Homo sapiens: one gene and its partner. The protein of the gene in region 2 purifies or fractionates together with the protein of the main gene of each other region. This does not show direct contact. Each region holds a gene or a part of one and is shown on either strand. Other genes may lie near its edges.

Region 1 (15,020 bases), on a different chromosome or scaffold from region 2:
CTGCTGTTAGTCACCTCCCTAATGGAGCTGGTCTGTAGCTTCTGGGACAGCTGATTTCCAGGGGATTATTTGTATTACACACTTTAATGCTTTTTAATAGCAAATTTTTAATTAAATGGAAAGTCCTTTTGGAAGCGAGGGAGCAGCAGCTGCAGCAAGACTCAGCGTGAGGCACCGACTTAGACCAGAGGTGCGCAAGTGAGTGGGGCGGAGGCAATGGCAGGACTTCGAGAGGACTTGATTGAGTGTATATGGAGTGTGCCCAGGCTAATTTTTATGGGAGGAAGGCAGGGGCCTGGCGCTGGCTCCTTCCTCCTGTCCTAAAAGCCCCCTCTGTCATCTGCAGGCCTAGGGAAGCATCTTCTTTGCCCAGGAGAGAATGTATATTGGATATATACATTATATCCAATAATGGGAGGGATATTGGAAGTATCACCTGCCTTTGATCCCGTTCCCAGAAATACTGAGATTGGGATGGGATTTTTGGGGTTGAGTCACTAGATTAGATCAAATAGTGTAGGTAATGGGATGCGGAAACAGTCTTGAGGCCCTGGCTCCGGCCCTGGCAGGCTTCGGAGTCCTCAGTCATCAAGGGAGGAGAACAAGGGGGCTATAGTGGTGGTTCAGTGCCTCGGGACTGTGCCGGCTGGGTTGTATACTTTGCTTTCTGAATGATCTTGCTTCGTGGGGAGGGGACATAGGGAAGCACCTCAGCCCTGAGGAAACGTGTGACACTGGAAATGGAAGCAGCCAGGGCCCACCCAGGAAGAGACATGGCCATTTCTTTGTCTCCTAGCACTGAACTGGTTAGTTTGGTGTCAGGCCATTCCTGAAGTGCTCCATGAGGTGCACCTGTAACTGCCAAGGCTTGGAGCAAAGGTCAAACCGAGGGAGGCCTTTGGAACAGAAGTTCCCCATCAAGAGAGTTCACGTGAGGGGAGGGACAGGACAGTCAGCCAAAGCGGAGTCGTTTCTGCATTAGAATGATGCTCAGGGGTTGGCATTTAACCCAGAGGTGGCTTTGTGGGCAGAAACTTGAAGAGGAGACCTCAGAAGACTTCAGGTTGGTTTTTTACCCAAGAGCTTTGGAGGCGGGGAGCAGGGAGGGATTCCGCCTGCCAGCTTTTTCTCGCAGCTGGTGCATCGCCCGAGTCTTCTTCCAGTGGCACCCTCCCGGACCTGTCTGCGATGCTGCTTTAGGGACATTTGTAAGTGGTCTTTCTTTTGGATGCCAGGGCTTTGTTGCCTGAATATGGGGGCTGCCCCACATTTCTTAAGGGAAGCAGTGGTGTAGACCACAGTCTTTGGAGTCAGGTAGCACTGGATTCACATCTTGACCCACCACTTAGAAGCTCTTTGGCCTTTGTTAAGAGACTTTGTGTCCCTGAGCCTCTGGTGCCCTCATCTGTAGAATGGGAATAACATTCATCTCAGGTGGTCGAAAGGAATAATAAACTCCTCAAAGGCAGGCACTCTGTCTGTTCCTCCTGAATCCCGCTGCCTAGCGTGGGGTCCAGCACATAGTAGGTGCTTGATAAATGCTTGCAGAATCAGTAATGTATGCAAGAGCCTAGCACAAGGCCTGGCATAGTAAGCACTTAATAAGCTGTTATTGTTGTCATTGCCTGAATGTGTGCGTGGCCTTCCAGGCTCACCATCCATTATCCTGCACCACGTGCCTTCCTGCTGAGCTCTGCCTTTCCACCTTCTTCCCCACCCCTTAGTTCTGCTCCCATTTACTGCTCTGGAAGAGCTCTCTGGCTTTCCCATCTGGTCATTGTTGTCCCCTGCCGTCAACATTGCTAGGTGCTGCTCACGCTGCATCTCACCATCGTGCATCATATCCCAGGACCACCTTCTCGGAGACCAGCCCTCTGGGAAGGTTCCGGCTTTTCTCCATCTTGACTTCTTAGCCATGAAGCTTTTCTCTCTTGCCTGAGTCTGAGGTGGCAACCAGAGCGCCAGGCTCTGGCTCCCAGGCTGCATAGCCTTGCACTGGGGGGCACTGGGCACGTCGCCACTTCCCCCCACTGCTCCTTCTGGAGAGCCCTGTGAGCCCGACAGGATGGGGCAGGGGTGGGGCTGCTGAGGAGAAGCCTAGGATTTCCAAGTTTTCTCTCTGTTAATCTCTGTCCCCATCTCCTCTCTTGCAGTGCGCCTCCATGACAGTATTTCTGAAGAAGGGTTTCACTACCTCGTGTTTGACCTGTAAGTGCCACTTTCTGAGGGTGTGGGGGCCTTTCCCTCTAGCTGACTCAAAATGAAGGCTCAGGAAGAGGCCTAAACAGGCTCTCCAGCCTCCGCCCAGGGCCCCCTCCTTTGTCCGAGGGAAAGGATTTGACTGGGGCAGATTGCTGCCCCCACCAAGGGGGTCTCCATGTTCCCCCAGCGTCCCCCCAGGGCTCTGAACCCCAGGACAGCATTCCTCTCGCACTTCTGTTCAGCAGCACGCCTTGCACAGATGCCTTTGTCTTGTTTCTCAGTGTGCTGTCCTTAGTGAAGAAATAAAAGACAGCTCTTTGCATGACCTTAAAAATCCTGAGAAATCAGAGGTAGCTTTCATTAGTCGGAAACCAGGCTCCATTGGATTGGGTCTCTCCTCCACGTTGGTTGTGGTTTAATGTCTTAAAAGTGGCTCTTACCTCCTGGACACTCCTCTCCAGGATTCTCAGGGTTGGGTCTCTGTGTCATTGGTCTCATTACTCTTCAACTTCAGTAGTAGCTCTGTCCTTCCTGGGCAGCGATATTTTAGTGTTTATGTTGGTCTCAAAGCTGTGACTTTTGGGGTAGGTTGACTGTTTTCTCTTAGATCCCTGTATCTTCATCTCTGCCTGACTATTAGTGAATCTGTGCATTTTGGAAAAAGAAATGTCCGGAAGGAAGGGACGGCCCATGATACCTCAAGGAGAATCCGGGTGTCACTGAAGGATCGAGTGTGTTCTGAGCTCTCAGATGAAATGCATGGGGAGTTGGGATTTCTCTGAAAGCCATTCTACAGGGTGACCCTGTTTCTTCTTGGACATTGGGGTTGGACAAAGGACCCTTTCTGCCTCTGACCCTCTTCTTCCCGTTGGTTGCAGTGTTACCGGCGGGGAGCTGTTTGAAGACATTGTGGCCAGAGAGTACTACAGTGAAGCAGATGCCAGGTAGGATGAGGGCCCGAGAGTTCAAATGTAGCTCTGGAGTTTAGGACTGAAGGAAGTCTTGGCCACCTTCGGGGTCCAGCATTGTACCTGTTTGAATAGTCTTTGGGGAAGATCAGAATAGCTCTTGTCTGGAGAAAGATTCTGTTGAGCTGGGCTAGGGCTTGCATACTGTGGGTGATATTAGAAGTTAAAAATTCAGCACTTCCTAACCAGGCGCAGTGGCTCATGCCTGTAATCCCAGCACTTTGGGAGGCTGAGGCAGTTGGATCACCTGAGGTCAGAAGTTGGAGCCCAGCCTGGCCAACATAGTGAAACCCTGTCTCTACTAAAAATACAAAAAAATTAGCCGGGTGTGGTGGTGTGTGCCTGTAATCCCAGCTACTTAGGCGGCTGAGGCAGGAGAATCACTTAAACCTGTAAGCGAAGGTTGCAGTGAGCCAAGATCATGCCACTGCACTCCAGCCTGCGTAACAGAGCGAGACTATGTCCCCCTCCCCCCCCCCACAAAAAAAATCACTTCCAAATGAATGTTTTACAAAGCTTTTCCAAGTCTCCTTTACCCTGTGACCCCAGAAATACTTTTTTTTTGCACTACCATGTACTCGCCACCATGCCCAATGTCCCCCTCTGCCCTTTTCTTTCCTTTGACAAATTCTGGTGTGCTCAAGCCACTGTGCTGAGGCTCTGGCATGATCCAGAGGTGCAGAAGACATGGTTTCTGTCCTGAGGGAGTGGAGAGTTCTGGGCTGATAATCCAACCATAGAGCCCCGGGAGCTTTCAGCCTCTGTCACCTTGTCCCTAGACCACCATGACCAGCCTTGCCGTGGGGCTCCTCCAACTTGAGGACCGTTCCCCGGCCACATGCCTCAGCCTCTGCCCTCCCTGGAATCCCTGGTGCCTCCCTCACCCACGCTCTCAGGCGCCTGTTCAGCCTGCCTTTCCCGCCTTGGCTCTTCCCCCAGCCTTGCTTTTCTCGAGGGTGATGTCCCTACAACCTGGTTTTGATCATCCTGCCTGCAGCTTATCTGGCTTATGTGGCAGCTCTGGCTGCTTCTGGAGAGTGGGGGAGTGCAGCTTCCTCACGAATTTCTCAACCTTGAGAGGCCAATGTTTGCTGATCAACTTCAGATGCTTCAGCCTCGGGAAGAATTCTCAAGTGGGGAGATGAATTCCAGTGCCAGCAGGGGAGGACGAGGCTCTGGGACGGAGGAGGCAGTGATGGCTCAGGGAGCCTGCGGGGAGGAGGGAGAGCTATAGGGAGGGGGCCCTGAGGGGGGGTGACTGTACCAGTGGGCTTGGCCTGGCTCTGCTGGGACACTTCGCACTTTTGCCATTTTTGGCCAGAAGGCGCTCCCTGCTAGCCCGGCTCTGTTCTAATTATACATCTCTGTGGAGACTCGCCTCTATAGCTCAGTCTTAAAGTTTCTGTGGCCCACTCTTGGGCTGTGTCCTATGGGGAGGCCCGAGTTTCAGCCCCCAGGGACCCAGTACGACCCCTTGGTTCTTGTGGCATCCCCAGCATCAGATTTTAGGAATAGTAAGTCCAGGCCACCCAGCCCCATACACTGGGATGCTCTGCAGATGTGCTTAATATACCAGATAGTGCCTGATGACGGGGGTCTATATTCTAGGCCAAGTTCCTCAGCCTTGGTGCTACTAACGTTTTAGGCCAGGTACTTCCTTGTTGTGAGGCCTCTCCTGTGCATTGTGGCAGACATTTAGAAGCATCCTTGGCCTCTGCCCACCAAATGCTGGGAGCACCCCTCCTCCAGTTGTGACAACCAGAAATTTCTCTAGGCATTGCCAAATGTCCCCTGCGGTGGGGGGGGGCGGGCGGCAAATTCATTCCCAGTTGAAAACCACTGCTCTAGACTGCCCCCGCTCCCTGTCAGGAGTTTGATGACAGGGATGGCAGGATGGTTTGCTATGTGGACAGTCTGATTTACGTGTGTGACTGTGGCTGGGCGCAGTGGCTCACGCCTGTAATCCCAACACTGAGAGGCCAAGGTGGGTGGATCACTTGAGCTCAGGAGTTCAAGACCAGCCTGGGCAACATGGTGAGACCTTGTCTCCACAAAAAAATACAAAAATTAGCTGGGCACGGTGGCTCATGCTTGTGGTCCCAGCTACTGGGGAGGCTGAAGTGGGAGGATTGCTTGAGCCCAGGAGGTCAAGGCTGCGGTGAGCTGTGTTCACGACATTGCACTCTAACCCAGGCAACAGAGTGAGACCCTGTCTCAAAAATAAAATAATAAAATAACTTTGGGTTTTTTTCTCTACGCAAAATCATCAGAAGTGCTCCTTAAATGCCCTGTTTGGAAGCTCTTAAGTACATTGTTTCTTAAAGGTATCTTTGTACTTGTTTTAGCTGCCTTACTGGATGCCAGACCTCAGGGCAGCTATTGGGTCTTGTCCATCTTCATTATCCTAGGCACTCAATAAACATTTAGGGAAATGAATGAGTGCACCCACCGCCAAAGTAGCTTAGGTTGTTTAGTTGGACTCTCCTTCCTAAGTTGCCAGCACAAGCTTCTTCTCCAAGAACAAAGTTACTGTATGGAGAAAGAGAAAGAAGGAAGGGATTGGATGCTCTCTTCTTCCTCAGGATTCTGGGCTGTCTCCTGATCTCTTGGAAATGAGTTGGTTGTGTTAGACCTTTCCAGTCAAAAGGGGGTGAGAGGAACCCGTTCTAGCGGTGATCCTAGAAAAACCATTGCATCTGCCTGGGCCTCGGTTTCCTCTTTCTTTAAATAGGTTGAACAAGATGATGTGCAGAGTCTAAGGTTCCAGTGGCCGTTAAGTGATTCTCTGTGAATCCGTGGCCCCTTGTCACATGCCTTAGTCTGCAGCATGTGGTTGTGGATGTGGATGAGGTGGTTTAACCCTGCGCTAACATTTCTTTTCCTTCTGCTTTTTTAGCCACTGTATACATCAGATTCTGGAGAGTGTTAACCACATCCACCAGCATGACATCGTCCACAGGGACCTGAAGGTACTACCCAGGCTCCCCTCCGTGCCTCTGCTCATGAAGTGTTGGCGCCACCTGGTGCCAGATAGTGGTACTGCGTAGGCCCAAACTAGGCTTCCTCTGGGCTGCAGGGTGGGTGCTCACAAGGTTCTCTGTGTTTCTTCTGCAGCCTGAGAACCTGCTGCTGGCGAGTAAATGCAAGGGTGCCGCCGTCAAGCTGGCTGATTTTGGCCTAGCCATCGAAGTACAGGGAGAGCAGCAGGCTTGGTTTGGTAAGGGTGATCCTGTCTTCCCGGAATGCAGCCCCCGCCCTTCCTCCTCTTCCTGATCTGCCTTCCTCTATTAGAACTAGAAGCCAGACCCTTAATGGTCCTGGCCTCCGAGATCTCTCTTGGCCGTACGCGACTCAGTACAGTAAGTCTAGCTGTTGTCAGCACTGCTTTCTTGCTGCCTGTGGGAAGGAGCTGGAGTTCCTGGTAGGCATACGGCTTTGCCGTCTGGTTCAGATTCCAGGCGCTACAAGAAGCCCAGCCTGTCAGCTCTTGCTGCCCATGTGCTGAGAGTTTATGTAGCAAAAGCAGCAGGAATAAGATGGGACTTGGGGGAAATGGCTGGTGTGGATTTAACGAGAGAGAAAGTGGGTTCAGTATGCCTCTGCCCTCTCTTTTGCTACAGGTTTTGCTGGCACCCCAGGTTACTTGTCCCCTGAGGTCTTGAGGAAAGATCCCTATGGAAAACCTGTGGATATCTGGGCCTGCGGTAAGCCCATTCCACGCTCTCAGCTTTTCGCTGTTAAGGGCCCTCAACTTCCGATGATGGCAAGAAAGAGGCATCGCTATTCCTTGCAGGTCACACACGTGCCTGGTGTATGTGAAATTATGGTGTTTGCCCCTGGGATGGCTGTTCCCATCACACCCTCCTCCCTGCGTACTTCTGGGATGACATTGTATCCTTCTTGGAGAGGGATTTGCCCACGCCTTAGAGGATGGGTTGTGCCTAAAGAAATCCCTGGTGTGACTTGGTGACGTGAAGTGTGAGGCATAGCAGGAGGGGCTGGTAGCATAGCATTATCGGCTGGCATCCACTTCTGACTCTGGTATGGCCCCTGCCTTTCTAGGTGGCTCTGAGCCCTGCATGGTTTTTCTTGGTTCCTCAGGGAAGTAGGCGACTGACCCCCATGACCTGTGTGTTCTGTCTCGTAGGGGTCATCCTGTATATCCTCCTGGTGGGCTATCCTCCCTTCTGGGATGAGGATCAGCACAAGCTGTATCAGCAGATCAAGGCTGGAGCCTATGATGTAAGGACCAGAGAGCCGGGCAGCCAGGCCAGGAAGGGCAGATGTCCTTGCTCCTCGGGCTCTGTCCAAGGGAGCAGGCTTGTTTAGTGTGTCACGTGATACGGGGGTGTCAGGGGACTTTGAGGACCCAGGAATGGGCATCCAGGGCCCAATTCTTGCCACTCTATGTCCCAGGGAGCAACTTTCTTTTGCACAGCCTTCTTCATAACTAAAATTGAGGAGTCCACTGAAGTCCTTTGATCTTTACTTGCAAAGAATGGAGCGGCCTCATTGGTGTGCTGTGTAACACAGGGACAAAAGGCCTGGAGACTCCCTCCACTGCAGTGGCACCTTGGACACATTGCTGAGCCTCTGTTCCCTCCTAAGTATAGAGCTGGGCTTAAACCAGAGAATGTTGGAGTCCCCTTCCCGCTCTAATCTGATGTTCTGGCATTCTAAACATGACTGTTCTGTCTGTCTTTCCAAGTCTTTAAGTTGACACAGGTTCTGGAATAGCCGCAGGGCTTCTCCAACTCTGCCAGTCACAGCTTTAGGTACCACAGAGTATCCCAATTACAGGAGTTGAGTTGAAGACAGAACCAGTGTTGCAGGGTATGAAGCTCACCAATACCACATTCTTCTCCCTATTCCTGCTCCTTAGTTCCCATCACCAGAATGGGACACGGTAACTCCTGAAGCCAAGAACTTGATCAACCAGATGCTGACCATAAACCCAGCAAAGCGCATCACGGCTGACCAGGCTCTCAAGCACCCGTGGGTCTGTGTAAGTGTCTTTGCTAGTGGCCAAGGAGCTCAGGGGTGTCAGCCTTCTGTGTGCCCTCGGCACCACCCCCTCCTTCTTACCAGCAGAGATTCATTCTGGGCCCCAAGCAATAACTGAGCAGGCGGGCAGAGGACTGTTGAGGGCCAGGGTCAATAAATGTCACCAGGGAGACTCGGGAGGCTGATGGGGCTGGTGGGCCACTGCTCCTCTCTCCCCCACTCATGGCTGTCAGGCTGGGATTGGTTCTGTTCTTGGATGAGGGCTCAGGTTGACCCTTGTGGACTCCAGGTAGCCGGTGATAGAAAGCAGCTGGCAAAACCCAAAGTGAATTCCCAAGCTGGGGTTCATACTCAGATCTCAACTCCACTGGAGTGGTGACCAAGATCCAACAAATCAACAGAAGGGGTTTCTGAGTCATTAAAAGCATAAAAGCTGAGGCATAAAGCTTCTGCGCTAAAGTCCTAGGAGAGTCCTCTAGGCTATCAGTGTGGGTTGACGTACTCTGTTTTTATACACAATTCTTTCAAGCTGAAATATCAACTTTCAGACAAAGAAGAGGATTTGGTAGAGTTAGGCATCTTGACAACCACGAGGCATTATTTATCTGTCCATTCTGTGTTTATTAAATACCTCTTTGGTGCTGGTTACCGTCTGGGTGCTGGAGATACAAAGATGAATGAGGCATGGTCCCTGCCCCAAAAGATCATCTAGGGAGACAGGCACTCAAACAGGCAGTCATGTTACAATGTGACAAGTAGGTACAAGAATCTAATGAGAGTACAGGAGCTCCTACTGTTCCTGGTGGGTGGTGGGGTTACTGAAGGCTGCACGGAGGAGGTGACACCCCTGTGCTTGTTCTTGGCAAATAACGAGGTCCTCAGAACGTTAACCTGCAGACAGAGTTTAGCACAGTGAGAGGTTATGGGAAACTATGGTGAGTTGAAGGAATGTTGAGTTGTTTGGTTGTCGATGAGGCTGCAAATATCAGAATGCAAGAGAATGGGGCAAAAGATTCCCTGACATACAAGTTTCTGCCTCAGGAGTTTGGATTTTATTCTGAAAACATAGGGAATCATTTAAGGGTTTTAAAGAAGAATGAAATTTGCATTTAAGAACACTTTGGAAGTTGTGAGGAAATGAATTGCCAGGCATGGTGGCATGTGCCTGTAGTCTCAGCTGCTGGGGATGCTGAGGCAGGAGGATCATAAGCCCAGGAGTTTGAGGCTGCAGCGAGCTATGATTGCACCTGTGAATAGTCATTGTACTCCAGCCTGGGAAAGATGGTCAGACCCCACCTCTTTAAAAAAAAAAAAAAAAAAAGAAGGGAATTGAAAATTTTTAAAAGAAAAGGGCTGGAGACAGAGAGCTCAGGAAGCTTTTTTAATAGTTGGAATAGTCTAAGCAAGACCAGGTGAGGTCTCAGCAGAGGGTAAGGATGGGGGAATGTGCAGTGTGTTGAAATTCAAGAGATATTTGAGAGAACCTAAAGGATTTAATTCTCTCCAGTTGGATTTGGGGGGAGCAAAGAAGAGAGAGGCCAGGTTTCAAGTTGAGCGGAGAGTTGTACCCTCACTGACCCAGAAGAAAACCAGAGGAGGAGCTTGTTTGTGAGACAAGACGATGGTTTTCTCTTTTTTTTTTTTTTTTTGAGATGGAGTCTCGCTCTGTCGCCCAGGCTGGAGTGCAGTGGCGCGGTCTCACTGCAAGCTCTGCCTCCCGGGTTCATGCCATTCTCCTGCCTCAGCCTCCCGAGTAGCTGGGACTACAGGTGCCCGCCACCACGCCCGGCTAATTTTTTGTATTTTTAGTAGAGATGGGGTTTCACCGTGTTAGTCAGGATGGTTTCGATCTCCTGATCTCATGATCCACCCGCCTCGGCTTCCCAAAGTGCTGAGATTACAGGCATGAGCCACTGCGCCCGGCCAAGATGATGGTTTTCATTTTGTGCCTGCTGAGTCTGGCAACCTCCAGCCAGACACATTCAGTGGGTGGTTAGAAATATGGTCCTAGAGATTAGAAAAGAAGCTAAAAATTGGAAATCCACATTGTAGTCATTTCTGTGTAGTTGGTAGTGAGGCTGTAGAAATAGCCTCTTCCTATGCTGTAGATGGGCCTGTTCCTATGCTGGTTGAGTTCTTACGGTGAGCTTCTATTGGCTGTAGTAGAGAAGAGACGGCCACTACACACCAGCATTTAATGATAGGGAGAGTTAGGGGGCCCAGCAAAGAGCACTGAGAGTGAGACCTTCCAGAAGACCCAGAAGCTAAGAAACAGGGGGTCTCAGTAAGGGAGCGTCAGGAATCAGATGCAGAAGAGTCCCTGATTAAGTTGGGGAAGAATCCCCTGGCTCTGACCATTAGATGCCATTGTTTCATCATTTCACTGAGACAGTGGAGAGAAAGATGAAACCCTGTTTTCAGTGAGACGAAGAGGGAGTGAGGGTGAGGAGGGGCATGGGGAGCTAGGCATTGAGGTGGGAAATAAATGGTGATACTTAGATTAAGATGGGCCAGGGGAGCTTTTAATGTAAGGCTCACACCTGTAATCCCAGCACTTTGGGAGACCAAGGCAGGCGATCACTTGAGGCCACGAGTTCAAGACCAGCCTGGCCAACATAGTGAAACTCCATCTCTACTAAAAATACAAAAAATTAGCTGGGTATGTTGGTACACACCTATAATCCCAGCTACTTGGGAGGCTGAGGCATGAGAATCACTAGAACCCAGGAGGTGGAGGTTGCAGTGAGCCAAGATAATGACACTGCATTCCAGCCTGGGTGACAGAGGGAGACTCTGCCTCTAAAGAAGAAAAAATTTCTTTTTAAAGATTATATTGGTCAGGAGCGGTGGCTCACACCTGTAGTCCCAGCACTTTGGGAGACCAGGGTAGGTAGATCACTTGAGCCCGGAAGTTTGAGACCAGCCTGGGCAACATGGCAAAACCCCATCTCTACAAAAAAAAAAACTTTAAAAATTAGCTGGTTGTGGTAACGTGCCTTAGCTACTTGGGAGGCTGAGATGAGAGGATCACCTGAGCCTAGAGAGGTGGAGGTTGCAGTAAGCCATTATTGTGCTACTGCACTCCAGCCTGGGCAACAGAGTGAGATGCTGTTTCAAAAAAAAAAAAAAATTTTTTTGTTTAAGGAGAGGCTTAACTATAATCTATAGAGAAGAATCTAGTCCAGAGGAAAGAGTTGAAGATCCTTGCTAATTGAGGAAGCAAAGGTTTGGACAGCAGAAAAAGAGAGGGGGCTCCTGAGCCAAGGGCAGGGGGTCCATCCCGGGGATGACCATGATCCCCCTGAGACTTCTATTAGTGTGGAGGCAGGTGAAGATCGGCTTGTGAGTGGAAGTCTGAGCTGAAAGGGGTTCTTGCTGATGACCTCTCATTTTGCTTTTGGAGAAATTTACACCGAGGAGGAGGTAAAATGAGAGACTTGGGGAAGGTAGAGAAGGTGGGGAGAGTTGCCTCCGGACCTGGAAAGAGTGGGCCAAGGGTGAGGGAAAGGATGCGAGGAGGCCCCGTAGTGTTGGTGGGCACCTGGCTGCAGGTGCCAGGATTTGTTTTTCTGACAGGCTGGTGAAGACAGCAACAGCAAGGGGAGAGGGCAAGCAACCTGAAACAGGCACCCAAGAATGGGGGAAATATTCTGTTCTGGGGTCATTTTTGCAGGCCCTACCCTCTGCAGTCCCGTGTGTCTCGAGCCCCTGAGGACATCACTATATTCTGAAATTACATAATGATGCTGGTATTGACAGCTGAGTCATTGAGGAAGTGTAGACTGTGTCCCATGGACTCTGTTTAAGGAGGCCAGGAAGTTAGCAGTAAATACATTGAAGACAAATTTCCATCCAAAAAAGGCGGGGCACAGTGGCTCACACCTGTTATCCCAGGACTCTGGGAGGCCGAAGTGAGCAGATCACTTGAGGTCAGGAGTTCGAGACCACCAGCCTGGCCAACATGGCCAACCCTGTCTCTACTAAAAATACAAAAATTAGCTGGGTGTGGTGGGATGTGCCTGTAGTCCCAGCTACTCGGGAGGCCAAGACAGGAGAACCTGAGAGGCGGAGGCTACGGTGAGCCGAGATTGCACCACTGCACTCCAGCCTGACTGACAAAGCGAGACTCCATTGCAAAAAAAAAAAAAAATTACATCCAGAATGATGAAAAGAATTGATGCTTCAAGGTGACGATCCTTAGCTTCTGGGATCATGGCTTCATTCAGGACCTTGCTGGGGGTGTGTGGAGAGGGGCTCTTGGAAGGAAGGAATGTCCTCTGTAGAGAGCAGGAACCCTGCCGTTCTCTCGCTGCTGAGCATCTGGAACGCAGTAGGTGCTCAGTAAACAGCTGCCTAAGGAGTGACTGAATGAGGATCACAGCCCCCAGGGTACTCTCCTGTTCGGTAGCCTCTGTTTCCCAAGGAAGAATAGGACGGTCTCTCAGCAGCCCGTCTAGCATCCGTTATGGTGTTCTCACGTTCATGTTGTCCTTATGTAACCTTGAGTTTCGGGTAGTGCTTTTATTCTAAAAGCGTTTTCACATCTGTGACCTCATTTCATCTTCAGAGCAACTCTGGGGTGGCTGAGTGCATGACCCTGTCCTGGGCATGGTATCGGTGCCAGGACTGTGGGAGGCGCAGAGGATCTGGGCTGGGGCTCATAGCCTGTCTGTTTGGTTTCTAGCAACGATCCACGGTGGCATCCATGATGCATCGTCAGGAGACTGTGGAGTGTTTGCGCAAGTTCAATGCCCGGAGAAAACTGAAGGTGAGTGTCGTTTCTAGGCTGCCAGCCTCCTTGACATCATGCCTTGCACCAGTGTGGCTCCTGCCCCATTTCAGAAGGAAGCTCCCCTCCTGGCTGGAGCTGGGCTCTGAAGGTTGTACATGTCACAGGGGAGGGGGCCCAGAGGCCTGATGTCTTCAGGCTCTAGCCAGGACCTGCCTTTGCCTGAGACCAGCCTGCCCTTTTCTAGGGTCTCAGTGAATTCACAGGACCTTCCTCTTTCCCCAGGGTGCCATCCTCACGACCATGCTTGTCTCCAGGAACTTCTCAGGTATGTTTTCCCAGCTGTGTACTTTGATTATGCCGAGGTGAGTGGATCAGGAATGGGCTGTTGCCATCCCGGGCACCGCTGGGTTTCCTCGGCGTCCTGGGCCACACCTTGACCAGGGCGAGTGAGGATCCTGTTTTGAGGGGCTGCTGCTGCTGCTGAGTCCTGCTCCTGAGATTCAGGGGGCTGGACTCACATTTGTGAATTGTTTCCTAGAACTTCCCAAGGAGTAGCCTGCCCAACTTGCTATGTACCTTGTTTCTCTGGATTCTTATTTAACTCTCTGAAGACTCTCAGCACTTTACAGATTTTAGCCATTCTAGGATCTTGGAGGATGTGCTGGGGGAAGAAAAGAGAGATGAGGTACAGTGAGTCTTCTCAATTGCCAAATTGCCACCATTCATTTGCCTGCTGGGACGATCTCTTACTTCATTTTGTCCAAGTGGAGATGACTAATAGAAATTATTCCAGATGTTTAAACCTTTTGTGGCGACTTGTGCTTAAAATAGTCCCTGAGATACTAGCTATAACAGTGAAGAAATAAAGACCAGCAGGAGAGAGGGAAAGGAACTTGCTTAAATTTGCATAAAGAATTGGGAGAGGTGGGACCAATAATTTGTAAATCATACTTGACATTTATTTTTAAGATGCAAGACACTCCACTCCCCTCTTGCCCCCACCCTCACCCCAACCCCTATTATTGTTTGCCTTCAATTGGGAAGCACAGTGGCTTTTTTGTGAGGAAAAGATTAATGTCGAGACTGAAGACAGAGAGGGCTCTGCCCAGCTTGCCATCTCCCCCGGTCCTCCCTCCCTCTAACCCCTTGCCTCACTGTTTTGGTTCAAGACCCCCCCTTCTCCTTCCCATAATAAGACTCCCTCCCTTGCTTCCCCTCTGCACCACCATGGAAAGGGGGTTGTGTGGGAGCCTAAGCCACCACTCAGTGGGAGCCACTTCTGAATACCCGTCCTGCTGGGCTCGCCTGCGCTGGCTCCAGGTAACGCCAGGGCCTTGGCTGTGAGGATGCTGCAGGCAGGGAGCCTAGGGCTTCGTGGTGTAGCCTGAGAGCCATGGAGCTCCGGAAGGCCAGGGCTGGATAGTGAGCCCGGGGCTGGTGGTGCCCTGCCCTAGGCCTTCTCCTTTGACCCTGGTTTGGGGCTTGATCTTGTGTCATGGGTACCCACGACGGGCATACTGTGGTGTGGCTCCACCTCTCGCAGATGGGAACAGGGAAGCGTGGCTGGCTGCCTCCGGTGGAGTTGCAACTGTAGTCCCACACTTGCTTCTTGTGCTTTAATGACGCAGCTTCTACTTTTTGGGTCTACGAGCCTTTCCAGAGGACATTGAAGGGCGTTTCGGTGTTGCCCCTAGAGCGAAGCTCTGTCCTCTCTCCCCTCTGAGTTGAAGAAATGTGAAGACAGTCTGCTGCTTCTCTTTTAGCCCAGCCAGTCAATAGCAAGGGCCCTGTCTTGCAGCCCCGGGCCTCCACATCAGCCTCCCCCTCCATTTCAGGAAACTGGCATCCTGGTTTCAGGAAATCGGGTGTTAGGACAAAGCATTTTATTCATCCCTGTAGAGCCTCCTGTTCTTATTGGCCAGACCTAGACTGGCCTTTGAGCTCACTTTGCCTTGGGTCAGAGGAGACAAACAATGTTGCAAGCATTCCAGGATGGCCTCTTCTGCCCTGACTCTGGGACAGGTGAGGACAGAGTCTGTCCGGAAGCTTCTGCAGAAAGAGGTGTCTATGGATGCAATCAAGAAGGAAGGGCACCTGTGTGTTTCTCTAGGGCT
Region 2 (15,020 bases):
ATCTGGAGTAGATGTCTATTCCAGTGAGGACAAACCTCTTTCCTTTCCATGATGGAAGAGGTCCAATATAATCAACCTGCCACCAGGTAGCTTGCTGATCACCCCAAGGAATGGGGCTGATCATCGAGGGCTCAGTGTTGGTCTCTGCTGCTGGCAAATTGGGCACTCAGTAGTGGCGTAGCCAGGTCAGCCTTGGTGAGTGGAAGTCCATGTTGCTGAGCCCATGCGTAACCTCCATCCCTGCCACCATGGCCACTTTGTTCATGGGTCTGTTGGGCGATGAGAGGGGTGGCTGGGGAAAGAGACTGAGTGGTATCCACAGAATGGGTCATTCTATCCACTTGATTATTAAAATCTGCCGTTGCTGAGGTCACCCGTTGGTGAGCACTCACATGGGATACAAATATCTTCACGGTTTTTGGCCACTCAGAGAGGTCCATCCACATTCCTCTTCCTCAAATATGTCACCAATTTTCCAATCATGCTTCTTCCACTGATTCAAATGTTAATGTAGTGACTTGATGACCCATAGTCAAATATTCAGTTTCCACCAAAGCCCAGTAACAGGCCAAGAGTTGTCTCTCAAATGGAGAGCAGTTATCTTCAGAAGATGGCAGGGCCTTGCTCCAAAATCCTAGAGGCCTCTGCTGTGATTCACCTATGGCAGCCTGCCAAAGGCTCCAAGAAGCATCCCTATCTGCCACTGACACCTCAAGTACCAGTGGATCTGCTGGATCATATGGCCCAAGTGGGACAGCAGCTTCCACAGCAGCCTGGACCTGTTGCAGATCCTTCTTCTGTTCTGGAACCCACTAAAAACTGGCAGCCTTTCAGGTCACTCGATAAATGGGCCAGAGTAATACACCCAAATGAGGAATGTGTTGCCTCTAAAATCCAAATAGGCCCACTAGGCATTGTGCCTTTTTCTTGGTTGTAGGAGGGGCCAAATGCAGCAACTTATCCTTCACCTTAGAAGGAATATCTCAACAGGCCCCACACCACTGGACCCCTAGAAATTTTACTGAGGTAGAAGTTCCCCGAATTTTAGTCAGATTTATTTCCCATTCTCTGGCACATAAATGTCCTACCAATAAATCCAGTGTGTTTGCTACTTCTTGCCCACTGGATCCAATCAGCATAATGTCATCAATGTAATGGGCCAGTGTGATATCTTGCGGAAGTGAAAAGAAATCTAGGTCTCTGTGAATAAGATTATGACACATAGCCGGAGAGTTGATATACCTCTGAGGAAAGACAGTAAAGGTATATTGCCAGCCTTGCCAGCTGAAGGCAAATTGCTTCTGGTGGGCCTTATGGACAGGAATGGAGAAAAAGGCATTTGCCAAGTCAATGGCTGCATACCAGGTACCAGGAGATGTGTTAATTTCCTCAAGCAATCAAACCACATCTGCTATAGCAACTGCAATTGAAGTCACCACTTCGTTAAGCTTACAATAATCCACTGTCATTCTCCAAGATCCATCTGTCTTCTGCACAGGCCAAATGAGAAAGTTGAACAGGGGTTTGGTGGGAATCACCACCCCTACATCTTTCAAGTTCTTGATGGCAGCACTAATCTCTGCAATCCTTCCAGGGATGCAATATTGTTTTTGATTTACTACTTTTCTAGGTAGAGGCGGCTGTAATGGCTTACATTTGGCCTTTCCCACCATAATATCCCTCATCCTACCAGTCAGGGAGCCAACACGGGGGTTCTGCCAGCTGCTAAATGTCTATGCCAATTGTGCATTCTGGCACTGGGGAAATGACCACAGGATGAGTCTGGGGACCCACTGGACCCACTGTAAGTCGGACCTGAGCTAAAATTCCACCTGATCTCCATAAGCCCCTACTTTAACTGGAGGACCACATGACGTTTTTGGGTCCCCTGGAATCAATGTCAGCTCAGAGCCAGTGTCCAGTAGTCCCCGAAATGTCTGATCCTTTCCTTTTCCCCAATGCACTGTTACCCTGGTAAAAGGCCAGAGATCTCTTTGGGGAAGGATGGGAGAAAGATTCACTGCATAAATTGTCAGTAATGTGGTGTCCTTCCTCAAGGGGTTCTGGCTTCCCCTTCATTCAAGGGGTTCTGGGTCTGTGAGCTGGCTCAAGTCTGGAAATTGATTGAGTGGCCATGATTCTCTGTTTTTATAATTCAAATTAGTCTTTTGTCCATTCAACCTAGAAATTTCCTGCTTGTATAAATTAAGTAGGAATGCAGTAGGCCTCCTATCCATTTCATTTCTAGGAACACCATGATTAATTAGCCAAGGCCAGAGCTCTAGACACATCAGACTATTCTGATTGTCGCTTTGCCTCTGCTATCCGTTATGGTAACTACGCCCACCTTGCCTTTGATGGTTGAGTGTCACCACTTGGCCCCCGCTACCTCGGGATCCAATTATTCCCATTGTATTTAAATTTTGTAGTTGAGTGACTGCAGTTCCCATCATTAGATCTGACACACAGAGAAGAGCAATTACAGCAATTACAGGGCTCTTCAAAGATGCAGGTGCTGCCCTTACAAATCTATTCCACAACTCAGTGTCCCTAGTTTCATCAGGGGGATCTGGCAGTCCCACATGTCCCCATTCCAAGTTTCAGGGTCCCATTCTTTTCCAGTAGATGCCCTCACTTTAACAGTAAACACCTGGTGCATGCATCTTTTGTTACAAGTCAGCCACTCACATGATAAGAGCTTGTGTTTGTTTTTCCACAATTTCAGCTCTTTCTGTTCAGGAGATAAGATTCTCACTCAGGGCAGTCTTAGCAGATTTGAGGCTATCTGTTTCTGAAGCTGGGAGACAGAATCCCTGAGTTCATAATTTTCTTTCATCACTTTGTCCACTGAACATAGGAACAACCAACCAGCTTCATTATGTTCCTTGGTTCTCCACATATGGTGAAAGGTATTATGCATAGAGTCACTAAACTTGACTCTCACGAGTAATGAATCAGGAGGGTCAAATGCATTTATTTTGCATAACTCTCTAAACAGTTCACACCAAGGACTATCAGTGTTCTCCATACTATTAGAAGTAGAGTCCTTAGCATTTTGGGTTCTAATCATATTAAGCAGCCAACTCCAGAAACCCCAAACCAATGAAAGAACTCCATCCTTAATATTCTGTTCCTCTAGAACCACTCCCAATACCAAAATCTGTATTAGTCAGGGTTCTCTAGAGGGACAGAATAGGACACGCACACACACACACACACACACACAAATATATGGAGAGTTTATTAAGTATGAACTTACACAAACACAAGGTCCCACAATAGGATGTCTGCAGGCTGAGGAGGAAGGAGAGCCAGTCCAAGTCCCAAAACTGAAGAACCTGGAGTCCAATTTTCAAGGGCAGGAAGCATCCAGCATGGGACAAAGATGTAGGCTGGGAGGCTAGGCCAGTCTATCTTTTTCATTTTTCTGCCTGCTTTATTTTCGCTGGCAGCTGATTAGATGGTGTCCACTCAGATTAAGGGTGGGTCTGCCTTTCCCCAGCCCACTGAGTCCAATGTTAACCTCCTTTGGCAACACCCTCACAGACACACCCAGGATCAATACTTTGTAACCTTCAATCTAATAAAGTTGACAGTATTAACCATCACACCTGCCTAAGTAAAGATTAAATGAGATGATCATCACAACGCATATTTGTTGCTGTTGTTGTTTAAAAAAGTGAATGGAGGGCCAGGTGTCGTGACTCACACCTGTAATCCCAGCACTTTGGGAGGCCGAGGCAGGCAGCCCACTCAAAGTGAGTAGTTCGAGACCAACCTGGCCAACATGGTGAAACCTTGTCTCTACTAAAAATACAAAAATTAGTGGGTGTGGTTGCGTTCACCTGTAATCCCAGGTACTCGGGAGGCTGAGGCAAGAGAATCGCTTGAACCGGGAAGGCAGAGGTTGCAGTGAGCCGAGATAGCGCAACTGCACTCCAGCCTGGGTGACACAGCAAGACTTCGTGTCAAGAACAAAAAACAAAAAACAAACAAAAAAAGTGAATGAAGGGAAAAATAGATTAAGTTTTCAATGTAACATTGTTCATAGTAGGAAGAAAACCTGAAAGCAACCTAAATGCCCATCAACAGTGGGATTAATACATTGTAGTATAAACCCAGTAAAATACTTTAGTTTTTTAAAAAATGAAAATAAACTATAGTTACAATTGTATAGGTAGCTTTTTTTGTTTTAAAGCCAAGGAAGGATTAACATAAAATTCAAGATAGTGGTTACACCTGCTGTGAGAAGTGACAGGCATGTGATCAGGAAGGGGCATCCTGGTGGTTCCTTAACATCCTGATGAGGGTGTTGGGGCAAATGGGAATTCGTTTTATAATCATTCTTTAAATGATACATATATATGTACACACTGCTGCATTTATGACTCAGTTTTAAAACAAAAAAATCATTTAAAACTCTCATTGAATCTTAATCATGAGACTTATGTATCTATACTTGGAGATGGAGAATATGTAGACCTTGGTTCACCGTCCTAGTCTCCTGTGTTGAATCACAACACATTCTACTCATTTTTTGGCAACTACTAGATGAACTCTTACAACTTTGATTAAAATAATTGATACAGAAGATTTATTTTGCTGGCAGTAGATCTCAAAAAGCAAATTTCTGGTATAAAATGATCTACAGAGAATTTGGCAGATGGCAACTACTGTGTGTCAGGTCTGTGTCTACAACTGTAAATAAGATCTTGCCATTCTTATAGTCAGGCTGTGTTATAGTCATCCCGATCTTTTTTTTTTTTTTTTTTTTTTGAGACAGAGTCTCACTCTGTCACCCAGGCTGGAGTGCAGTGGTGTGATCTCGGCTCACTGCAACCTCTGCCTCCCAAGTTCAAGCAATTCTCCTGCCTCAGCCTCCTGAATAGCTGGGATTACAGGCACACACTACTACGCCTGGCTAATTTTTGTATATTTAGTAGAGACGGGGTTTCACCATGTTGGTCAGGCTGGTCTTGAACTCCTGACCTCGTGATCCACCCGCCTTGACCTCCCAAAGTGCTGGGATTACAGGCATGAACCACTATGCCCGGCCTGATTTTTAAATTTCAGTGCTGTATTCACTTATCAATGAGCAATGCCTCATTGGTAACGGTCACTATTCATCTCATTTCCAGTACTGTCAACACTATAAAAGGAAGACTTACAATATCCTGTAACGAATGGGCATGACTGCATCCAGAAATCTGAGACAGGTTTTCATGTCATGTACAGCTTTTTGTTAATTGTTTAAAGCTGAAGATGAACTCAAATAAAACTTGTAACTCAGAAGCATAGCCAATTAGTCGTTTAATCTATTTTCTGAACTGCATGCTTATTTTATGGATGCAGAGTAGATTGGTTGAGTGTGAGGACACTTAAAAATAGCATGATACAGTTATTGTAGGAAGTATTAATATTTAAAAATTGTTACAGCCAAGACCAAAAAGTGAGAACCACAATTCAATATTTTCTATAAATTTCATAAATGTCTATGTTTAAACATTCCTGGTAAATATGTATAATCGTACACTTTTAAACTTTCTCTGATAAATTCAGTGAGTATTCAATAATTGCTCATTATCAAAAGGTTGTGAATTTGTCTCTCTTCCAGCCAGATGACAGGAGCCTAGGATTCCAATGGTGTGCTCAGGACTGACATCACTGGGGTCAAAGATTCAGCTGCCATGGTCCAGGCTCCAGGCTGGGGAGGATGTTAGGGATTGGTGTGGTCAGGACCAGCGCTGCTATGACTGCGGATTTATTTGGCATATTTGGGACTGGGTGTGATGAGACAGCAGCTGGCATGTCAAGAGGTTGAGGGAGGGAGGAAGAATGAACAAATTATTTAGGATTATGGGAGTCAGGTTTCTATGAGAGAAGGAAGTTACAAAGATGGAAAGGGAGACTAGATTAACCTCAAAGGATTGAATTGAAGGTGTCAATGTGAACTCAAAGTTTTCAATACGTATGTATATAAATAGATATAGAAGTAGGTGACTATTCTTGAATGTGTGTAGACACACGTTTTCCTTTGAGCTGTTCACCAATAAGACAGTGAGCCTTTCTCAGGTCTTCATTTCCATATACCATTTCCCATTTAAAGAAACCAGGGCTCCTTGGAAAAAAGGGCTAATTCTAGACTTGGGGTAGGGAGTAGGAAAAAGTGTAAGATGAGCTCGTAAAAAAAATAAGAGGGGAAAAAGCAATGAGGCATCTCTAAGGAACACAGAAGCCAGCTTGAAGAGACTCCCAAAAACCAAATCGGGGAAAATTTCAGCATGAAAATAAGTGACAATAATACACTGTCACTGAATAAAGCAGGCATTCATGAATCTATACTGATTTAAGTGAATGAAGGAATAGAGAAGGAAGAGCTCTTCCTTACAGTAGTAGGATGCCAACCAAGGCAGAAGCCACGGACTCACCATTTGACAACCAAAATAGTAATTGGTTCAGTCAAGAATTGTCAATAGACTAGCCCGTGACAATTCGATGAGAAACAATACATTTACAATCTTTAAGAATCTCCTCACAAATTACTTCCTAATTCTAATTTTACAATGGAGAAACCTGGTATATACTATCTGAACCAAGTGACCAAAATTAATACTATCAGGTATAAGACAAATTGACATTGTGTGCATCCTGGCATGACACATTTGAGTATAGAGCATCATTTCTGTAGTATTGGACAAAAATGTCTATCCTAAACCTTATGGGTCTTATCTAATGATAAACCAAAACTGAGGAACTTTCTACAAACTGGCCAATCCTCCTCAAGTGTCAAGGTCAAAGACAAGTCTGAAAAGATGTTCTGGACTGAATGAAACAAGAGATAGGGCAACTAAATGCACTATGTGGTCCTGGATTGGGATGCTGAAACACAGGAACATTACTGAGGCAATCAAAATCAGCAGATTGAATGTGGTCTATGGATTAGATATCATGATGTCAATGTCAATCTCCTAAGTTTGATGGTTGTACTATGGTTACGTAGGAATGCCCTTGTCTTAAGGAAACACACAGTAGATAGAGGTAATAATGCAAAAAATATTTTGGTTGGGATTACATTGAATCTACAAATGTAAATGAACATCTTTACACGACTGAGTCTTCTAATTCGTGTACATTATGGAGTACTACATTTATTTAAGATCTCCTTAAATGCTTCCTGACATGGTCTAACATTTTCTCCATCAAGATCTTGTACATCTTTTGTTAGACTTATTCTTAGGTAGAGTATTTTGTATTTTTTAATGATATTGAAGAGATCTTTCTAAAAACTTCCATTTCTGTTAGTTGCTGATATCTAGGAATACAACTGACTTACATACTGATTGTGAATGTAGCAAATTTGCTAACTCCTAGATGTTAACTGAATAGTCTACATATATAATCATATCAACACATCACCATAATTTCCTGCCTGTAGGAAAGAAAAACCCACAGAATTCCACTGACTATAAGTTATTTAACAATATACAATGGTTGTCATTTAGAGAGATGTTTCCAGTTGTATAAATACTGTAACACAACGATAGCTGGGAATAGTGTAGCCATAGTACCATCTTTAAATCACCCAAATAACTGAGGTACAATTCTATCTGCTTGTGAGTTCACTAGGCAACAAGTCTCAGGGATCATATAGTCTTTGTCTCTGTATCAAAACAAATACACTGCCTAAGGTACACTAAAAGTAATTTAACATACTGTACTCATAAATTCTAACTAAGTTCTCTGTAGGTAAAACATGGCTAGGGAAGTTATGATCAACCCTTCAGAAATGACTTCTTCTGAGTCGTTTGGACAATACGCATCATCTTGGACAATACGCCTCCCACAAGGCTTCCTGGTGTTCTGGCAGCACTAACAGGGCTCCTGCTGTTGCCCTTTCCTTTTGGTCACGTATCTTTCCATGTTGCAAAAAACAACTTCTGGATAAATGATTTCCACCACACTATTAGATAGCACAACACAGTGCACACTGTGGATCCTCTAGAAATAGCAACCTCTTCTCAAGAGATACTTGCCTCAGGGCCCCAGGAAACTAGAAAGCATCTAGAGGCTTAAGGCTCTACGCTGGACAAAGTGCCAGGGAGCCCTAAAGGCAGAAAGGACCCAAAAGTGAAATTCTCATTTTTAAGCTGTGAGGGAAAACAGAGAAATGAGTTTATTACATGATATAACCTTTGGGTGGGCTCCATATATTAAAAGAGAACTGAAGAAGTTTAAAAGTACATTTTCTAAGTTTTAGTATAGGATGATGATAATGTTCTGGAGATGAATAGGTGCTCATGGTTGCAAAACAATGTGAATATACTTAATGCCACTGAACTATATGCTTAAAAATGGTTCAAACAATATACTTAAAAATGGTAAATGTTATGTGTATTTTACCACAATAAAAATTTTTTAAAGTTGCATTTTCTATTGTTAAAAACTACCAGATATTATTTAGTAATCACAGTCATTAAGAGCACTAACCATCAAAATCTGACAGCCCTATGTTTGAGATTTGACTCCACCTGTTACACCTGTGGAACACTGAAGCAAGTCATTTAACTAAGCCTTAGTTTCCTTATCTGTAACACAGAAATAATAACATGCTTACCCACCCATTATAGGTTGCTGTGAACTTGAAATAAAATAATCTATGTAGCACCTTGGCAAAGTTCCTGGCACACAGAGAAGGCTCAATACACATGGGCTCTAATTTTCTTTTTAGGTATTCATAGCAATATGATTATTTTATATTTTGTACAATGAGGACTAAAAACAAGCCTTCAGAAAAAAAAGGGCTGGTTATTGCTCCCTAGACCTTTACATCACATAGAACTATAAAACAGGTTTCCATAAAATTCATTCCACATTGTAGTCAACGGATGTATGATCCTAGGTGTTGACTTCTAAGCCAATGGTTAATAACCTTAAACTCTCATACTGTAATAGGCAACAACTGAAAAGAAGCCACGGGAACATGAAATAATTTAACAAGTTGATATATATATATATATATATTATCAAGTATAACACAGTCATACAAAAACATTTAGTAGAAATATAATTCACACATAAAAACAGTCTACTTATTTTTTGTCCCTTTTATATCCTATTTTAGGCAAAATGATAAAACCCAGAAAATAACAGGAATGTACTAGTCCTAAAAACTGGACCTTTTATAAATGAAACAGATCCGATCACCTATACCTTCTCTCAAATTCCAAATAATGAGGCTTACTGACCTGTACTCTCAGAATCAACTTAAATAAATTTTAGCTTGATTTGGATGAAATATGTACTTTCAGTTGTTGACAATCCAGGTAGAACAAGTACATAAAATGATTCCTAAGTCAAAACATTTCATACAAAAGGAATGGTTTTAACCCAGACAAATCAAGAGGAAATGCACTGAATTCAAAAACTTCTGAAACAGGCATTTTTTGGACCATTTATAAAATACTAAAAAGTTCAGAACTGCTGAAAAACAAAAGTTTATATAAAATAAAGCCAAGGGGTGAAAAACTATCAAATGTATTAAAACCATCTAAAGCCAAATATAATATAACTGAATATATAATTTAGAAACAGGTTTAAGTGCATTTTCTTTGTACAACTGACTATCACATGTAAAAACTGGCAATTAATTAAAATGCAATTAAATACAGATTTGCAAGCCTTCTGGCCATTATGTAAACATTTAAAAATTAACTGAATTGCCAATTGAAAAATAAGAGCTTACATACGTATCTTAAAAAAGCACAAATGGTGAAAGATGCACTATAAAATTGTGTGACAAAACATATGCATACCAACAAAGATCTTTTTAGGCACTTGCATTCAGAAACATTCCTTTTATAAATAAGCACTTATAACAGTTCCACTCCAAAAAATAAACCTGATTTTCCCAAATTGCACCTATTAGTTGAGACTATATCATATATTAGGGATGCATTCAAATGGACCATTTGGTGGGGAAAGTCAACTGAACTTTAAAAAATACGAATCCACCTATCTTATTCACAACTTTAAAAATACAGAATTTAAAGATAATTCCAGTGAGGCACAAATGTGACCCTATCAAAACATTCTACCATTCAGTATTACCAACAGAGGATAAATACAACAACAAAAGGCAAAACCCATGATTTGGCAGTCCTATACAAAAGAGGCCCTGTCAAAACATTCTTTCACAAAACAAGCACAATACCACAAAATAACACAACAACAACAAAAAAACCCTGAAATTTGACATCCCTACACAAATTGTGGAATTTCACCTTCGAGGTCTTCAAACTGTTGCATTCGTTTTAGCCTTGGTCTCTGACACATTGGATTCACATCAGGCAAGCCAAGCTCCTCAGAGTCTTCTTTAGGTTGACCAGTTGCTTGCCCAGGACAAGCTGATGCTTTGTCTGGGTCTGGCATTGACTTCACCACGAGACCGTGGGGATCGTGATCTGTGCCAGGAGGCACTGCTGCTGAGGGTGAAGCTGGCTTCTCCTCATTCCCCCTGATACTGATGATGGGAGCATGTGGTTTATAAAATGTTGTCCAATGTTGAGGCTGCAGTGTTCTGGGTGCTCTGACAGGAGCGAGAGGGTAGGAATCTGAAGACCGTCTCTCAGATGCCTCTCTCACTGACCTGACTGGCTCTGCATATGGCTTACTGGGTTGAGTGGCATTGATAGAATGGTCCCCACTAATCTGGAGGCTTGTTGTCACTCCTTTTTCCTGGAGTGCACTGGGCATGATCATTGTAGTCTTGGCAGTTAGGCTGTTTTGTTCATACTGTTTGTCCTGAATTTTCTGTAGAGTTTGCTGGTCAAAGCCATTAAATTTGGAACAAACAGTAGTAGCAGCGTCTTTTCTATTAACTCCTTCAAAGGCAGGATTCTTGCAAAACTTGTCTAAATTTACATTTCCCATATTTCTGCCATTTCTCTCATTAGGAGGACTTGCAAGAAGTAGTCTATCTACAGGCAAACTTACAGGTCTAATCTTGGTCCTTGGAGTATGCCTCTCCACATTGTTTGTTGACCTATCAGATTTCAGAGAAAGTGGCTTAGGGGTTTTACCATCTTCTATCTTTTGGGATGCTGATTCAGCCTCTTGGTCTAGAAGCAACTGTGCTTTGTCTGAAAATGAAAGAAATCTATTTAAGTTTGTGGCACATGGTTAATAAGAGAGTTTGAATGAGTTAGAGATGAACACTCTATCAAGACAATATGAGTCTTACATATTTTTTCCAAAATAATATTCTCAGTTACCTATGTGGAGGAGTTAAACATTTGCACAGTATTAAAGGTGTATATTGAATTTAAAAGTTCAAATTTTTTACTCATTTAAATCAACATGAACAGCTACAAAACACAAAAAAAACACTTGCTGAGTAACTTCTTTTTAAGTGCTGTGCATGAACAAGTACTTTCTGGGTCAAAAGACTATCACAATTTCAATAGGCAGACATTGGAAAATTAACCTCAGAAAAGTGACACTAATTTACACACCAACCAGATGTAAGTGTGCCCTGAATCCCAAGGATTTTGCCAACTCACTCAATCTGCTTTTCAGTTACACTCAACCCAGTGAGAGCATATGATATTAGATGCCTTAGATGCTCTCCATATCTGATCAACTAATAAAGCATAAAATCCATTCTGTCAAATGAAGGCTGAATGCTTTTAAGTTAAAAAGTGCCATTTTCCCCACCTGCTCCCGGATTTTCTTTCTATAGTCCGAACCCACAGTCCATGTTTTCTCACTTAGAAGCCTCAGTTCCTGCATCTATCCTAAAAAATTCCAATTCCAGGAATGTTCCAGCCCTCCATTCTCCTGCTTTTCTGTTCACTGCTGAAACACATCCACCAACTCTGTGCCTTGACGCCATCCTGACTTTAAGCTACAGTCGGCCCCAAGCACAGCATGCAATCCTTTCTCTGCCACCCAGTCCTTCACCCACATCTCTTAGGCAGTGGTTTGCAGACAGGTGCCCACCAGAGTCACTTTTTGGTCATCGTCTCATCTGAACTTCTTCCACACCTGGGACTGCTGGCCTCTCTTCCCTGGGTTCCAAGGCTCTTTTATTGTTTTGTTTTGTTTTTGTTTTTTGAGACAGAGTCTCACTCTGTCACCCAGGCTGGAGTGCAGTGGCATTATCTTGGCTCACTGCAACCTCTGCCTCCTGGGTTCAGGTGATTCTCTTGCCTCACCCTCCTGAGTAGCTGAGATTACAGGTGCCTGCTACCATGCCCAGATAATTTTTGTATTTTTAATAGAGACAGGGTTTCACCATGTTGGCCAGGCTGGTCCTGAACTCCTGGCTTCAAGATCCGCACACCTCAGACTCCCAAAGTGCCAGGATTACAGGTGTGAGCCACCACACCTGGCCCAAGGCTCTTTTGATTTGCTTTCCCAGGTCCTCCACACATTTATAGAGCATTCTAAGGGACCTGGTTCCTTGCAATTGGACTCTAGGCACCAACATATATTCTTAAATTTCTGAGGGAAAAACTTAGAGCATAATGGAGAAGAGCACAGACTCTGAAGCACAGTTGCCTGGGTCCTGGCTCAGCCCTGCCTGCCACTTCTGCACTGGGCTAGGCAATATCACTGTCCTATGTGTCTTCATCTGCGAAATAAGACTCCTATGTGTATCTATGTTGCTGTGTGATCTAAATGATCTACTAGGAAAAGTGCTTAAAATTATCTTGTATGTAATAAACACTGGAAAGTGACATTTATTATTATTACTGTTCCTAAGAGCTTCATGGGATAGCCACAAAGGTTAGGTTTAGTAATCAGAACTGGGTTCAAATGTATTAAGAGAACAACCTTTGGCATTACTTAGTCTCTTTCAGACGGTTAGTTATGGGTTGAATGAGGATAATGCTATTTACTTTATAGCACAGAACTATTATGAAGATCAAATAGAATCAAACAAATAAGCACAGTGCTTAGCACAGAACAGGCAGGTACCTGGTGAATGTTAGTTCCATTCCTTTTTTTTTTCTTTGAGATGGAGTTTCTCTTGTCACCCTGGCTGGAGTGCAATGGCACGTTCTCGCCTCACTGCAACCTCTGCTTCTCGGGTTCAAGTGATTCTCCTGCCTTAGCCTCCCGAGTAGCTGGGATTACAGGCGCCCACCACCACACCTGGCTAATTTTTTGTACTTTTAGTAGGCGGGGTTTCACCATGTTGGCCAAGCTGGTCTCAAACTCCTGACCTCAGGTGATCTGCCCGCCTTGGCCTCTCAAAGTGCTGGGATTACAGGCGTGAGCCACCATGCCCGGCCCTCCTTTCCTTTTTAGACCCTATGATCACTGATACTTGATTACACATTAAATTTAACATATATGGCTGCAATGTAAAAAACTGGAATTTAGCTATAACAATGTAGAAATGACAATACAAATGGAAGCTTTTCCACCAGCTTAACAACTAGCAATGACAGCAACTAATATTATAAAGAGAAAATAAGTGAATAAAATGATCGCAGTCAAGGAAAGAAAAAAGACATACACATCTCTGTGTTTAATAGGTTAAATGTAGGCCACAGGTAAAAAGCATGTCAAAAAAAAAGTAGGACTCTAAAGTTTTTGAATTTCAGGAGTCTAGTTGACTCTGTATGAGCAGTTAGCTCAATGCACTGAACTACGGAACTGGAAGATACTAACGAATATCACATTGCTCAACACATTTCTACCTTGATTTTAGCTGATGGCAAAACTCAAAAACAAAAACAAAATTCAGAAGGAACACAAAAAACATTATAAACTCCAAGATGTCTTATTATAAGAAAGACTTTTATGAAGAATGACATTCATTTAAATGCAAGATACACTAAAAGGCAACTTTCTCAATGGCTAGCCAAGATTTGTTAACTAATAAAGCTTCATTCTCTGGCTTCCCTCATTGCCCCTCACCTTGGTTTTAATCACGGTTCTACTGGTAAAATTTTAAGCCAGCAAACATATTTTTTTTTTACATGGCTACTCACCACTGAGACATGCATCACATTTTCCTAACGCATTTTGCTTGCGTTCTGATTCCTCAAATGATGTAGCTCGTTCAAAAATTTTGCTTTCACTCTCTGAAGTATGGATATCCTGTTGATGCAAGATAATTTTTAAAATGGAAGAAGTAAAACATAACCTCAAAATAAACAGTTCAAAGATCTTTAACTTATTAACATAAATATTACAAAGTTCTAATATAATTCTATAAAGGTCAAACTCACTTCCTTTGAAGAAAAAAATAGTGACTTCATGGAACGTTCAATGTCTCTTTCTTCTGGTGATAACAGAGGCTTTGGAAAACAGCCTTGATCAACAACACCTATGCTACACATAACATCTTGTGGTTGTAGGGACCCATCGAAGATCTTCTGTGAGTAAGTAATGAGAAACTCTACCAAGCGTGCTTGATTTGAATACTCTGCAAGGGAGGAGATGGTGATAGGAGCAGTTGTGGGCCTTGGCCTAATGAGACTTGGTCCAAATATCACCCCCAAGTTTTTGGAGTTCATCTTGTTTTCTTCTGCATGATCTACTACCCTGCAAAGTAGAACACATAAAGTTGTATGAGATTTTCCTATTAGAGTTCCTTGACTGTAGTTTACTATGGAATAGAGAGGGTGGAGGGAAAATGAGCTGCACAAAAATACTAGGGGGAAAAAGTCTAGGAAAAGGTTATATTTATTTGATTAAAATATTGACCACATGCCAAATAGAGTTTCACAGTTTCACAGTATTGGAATAAATTTCAAGTTAAGTAGAAGGAACTACTATAGTTTTACCAGCAGAAAGAAAAAATACCCCTAAAAACTGCTCCCATCTCAGTATATGGTATATCCTCCCAAGTCCTTATACTGGGAACTTAAACATCATTGTCAGGTGTCTCACTACCCATCTCCAAGTCTAGATGATTCTCCCTTCTGAAGATCTCAGTTCCAACACCATTCCCACTCCTCTGGCCTCACTTCAAGCTCTTACCACCTTTTATTTCTATGATTATTCAA

What was found.
Region 1: the proteins of ARHGAP29 (region 2) and CAMK2G purify together in Homo sapiens (affinity purification with mass spectrometry; 2 studies listed by BioGRID and IntAct, with this or other methods). This does not show direct contact.

Annotation. Positions count from the first base shown.
Region 1 is NC_000010.11:73,840,380-73,855,399, reverse strand, and holds part of CAMK2G (calcium/calmodulin-dependent protein kinase type II subunit gamma), read left to right. Parts: intron 1-2,153; coding exon 2,154-2,208; intron 2,209-3,080; coding exon 3,081-3,146; intron 3,147-6,066; coding exon 6,067-6,139; intron 6,140-6,284; coding exon 6,285-6,387; intron 6,388-6,790; coding exon 6,791-6,874; intron 6,875-7,317; coding exon 7,318-7,412; intron 7,413-7,608; exon of another isoform or gene 7,609-8,052; coding exon 8,053-8,175; intron 8,176-12,858; coding exon 12,859-12,942; intron 12,943-13,188; coding exon 13,189-13,231; intron 13,232-15,020.
Region 2 is NC_000001.11:94,163,612-94,178,631, forward strand, and holds the end of ARHGAP29 (rho GTPase-activating protein 29), read right to left. Parts: intron 14,557-15,020; coding exon 14,241-14,556; intron 14,110-14,240; coding exon 14,001-14,109; intron 11,139-14,000; coding exon 10,258-11,138; 3' UTR 5,294-10,257; downstream 1-5,293. UniProt on the Homo sapiens protein: GTPase activator for the Rho-type GTPases by converting them to an inactive GDP-bound state. Has strong activity toward RHOA, and weaker activity toward RAC1 and CDC42. May act as a specific effector of RAP2A to regulate Rho.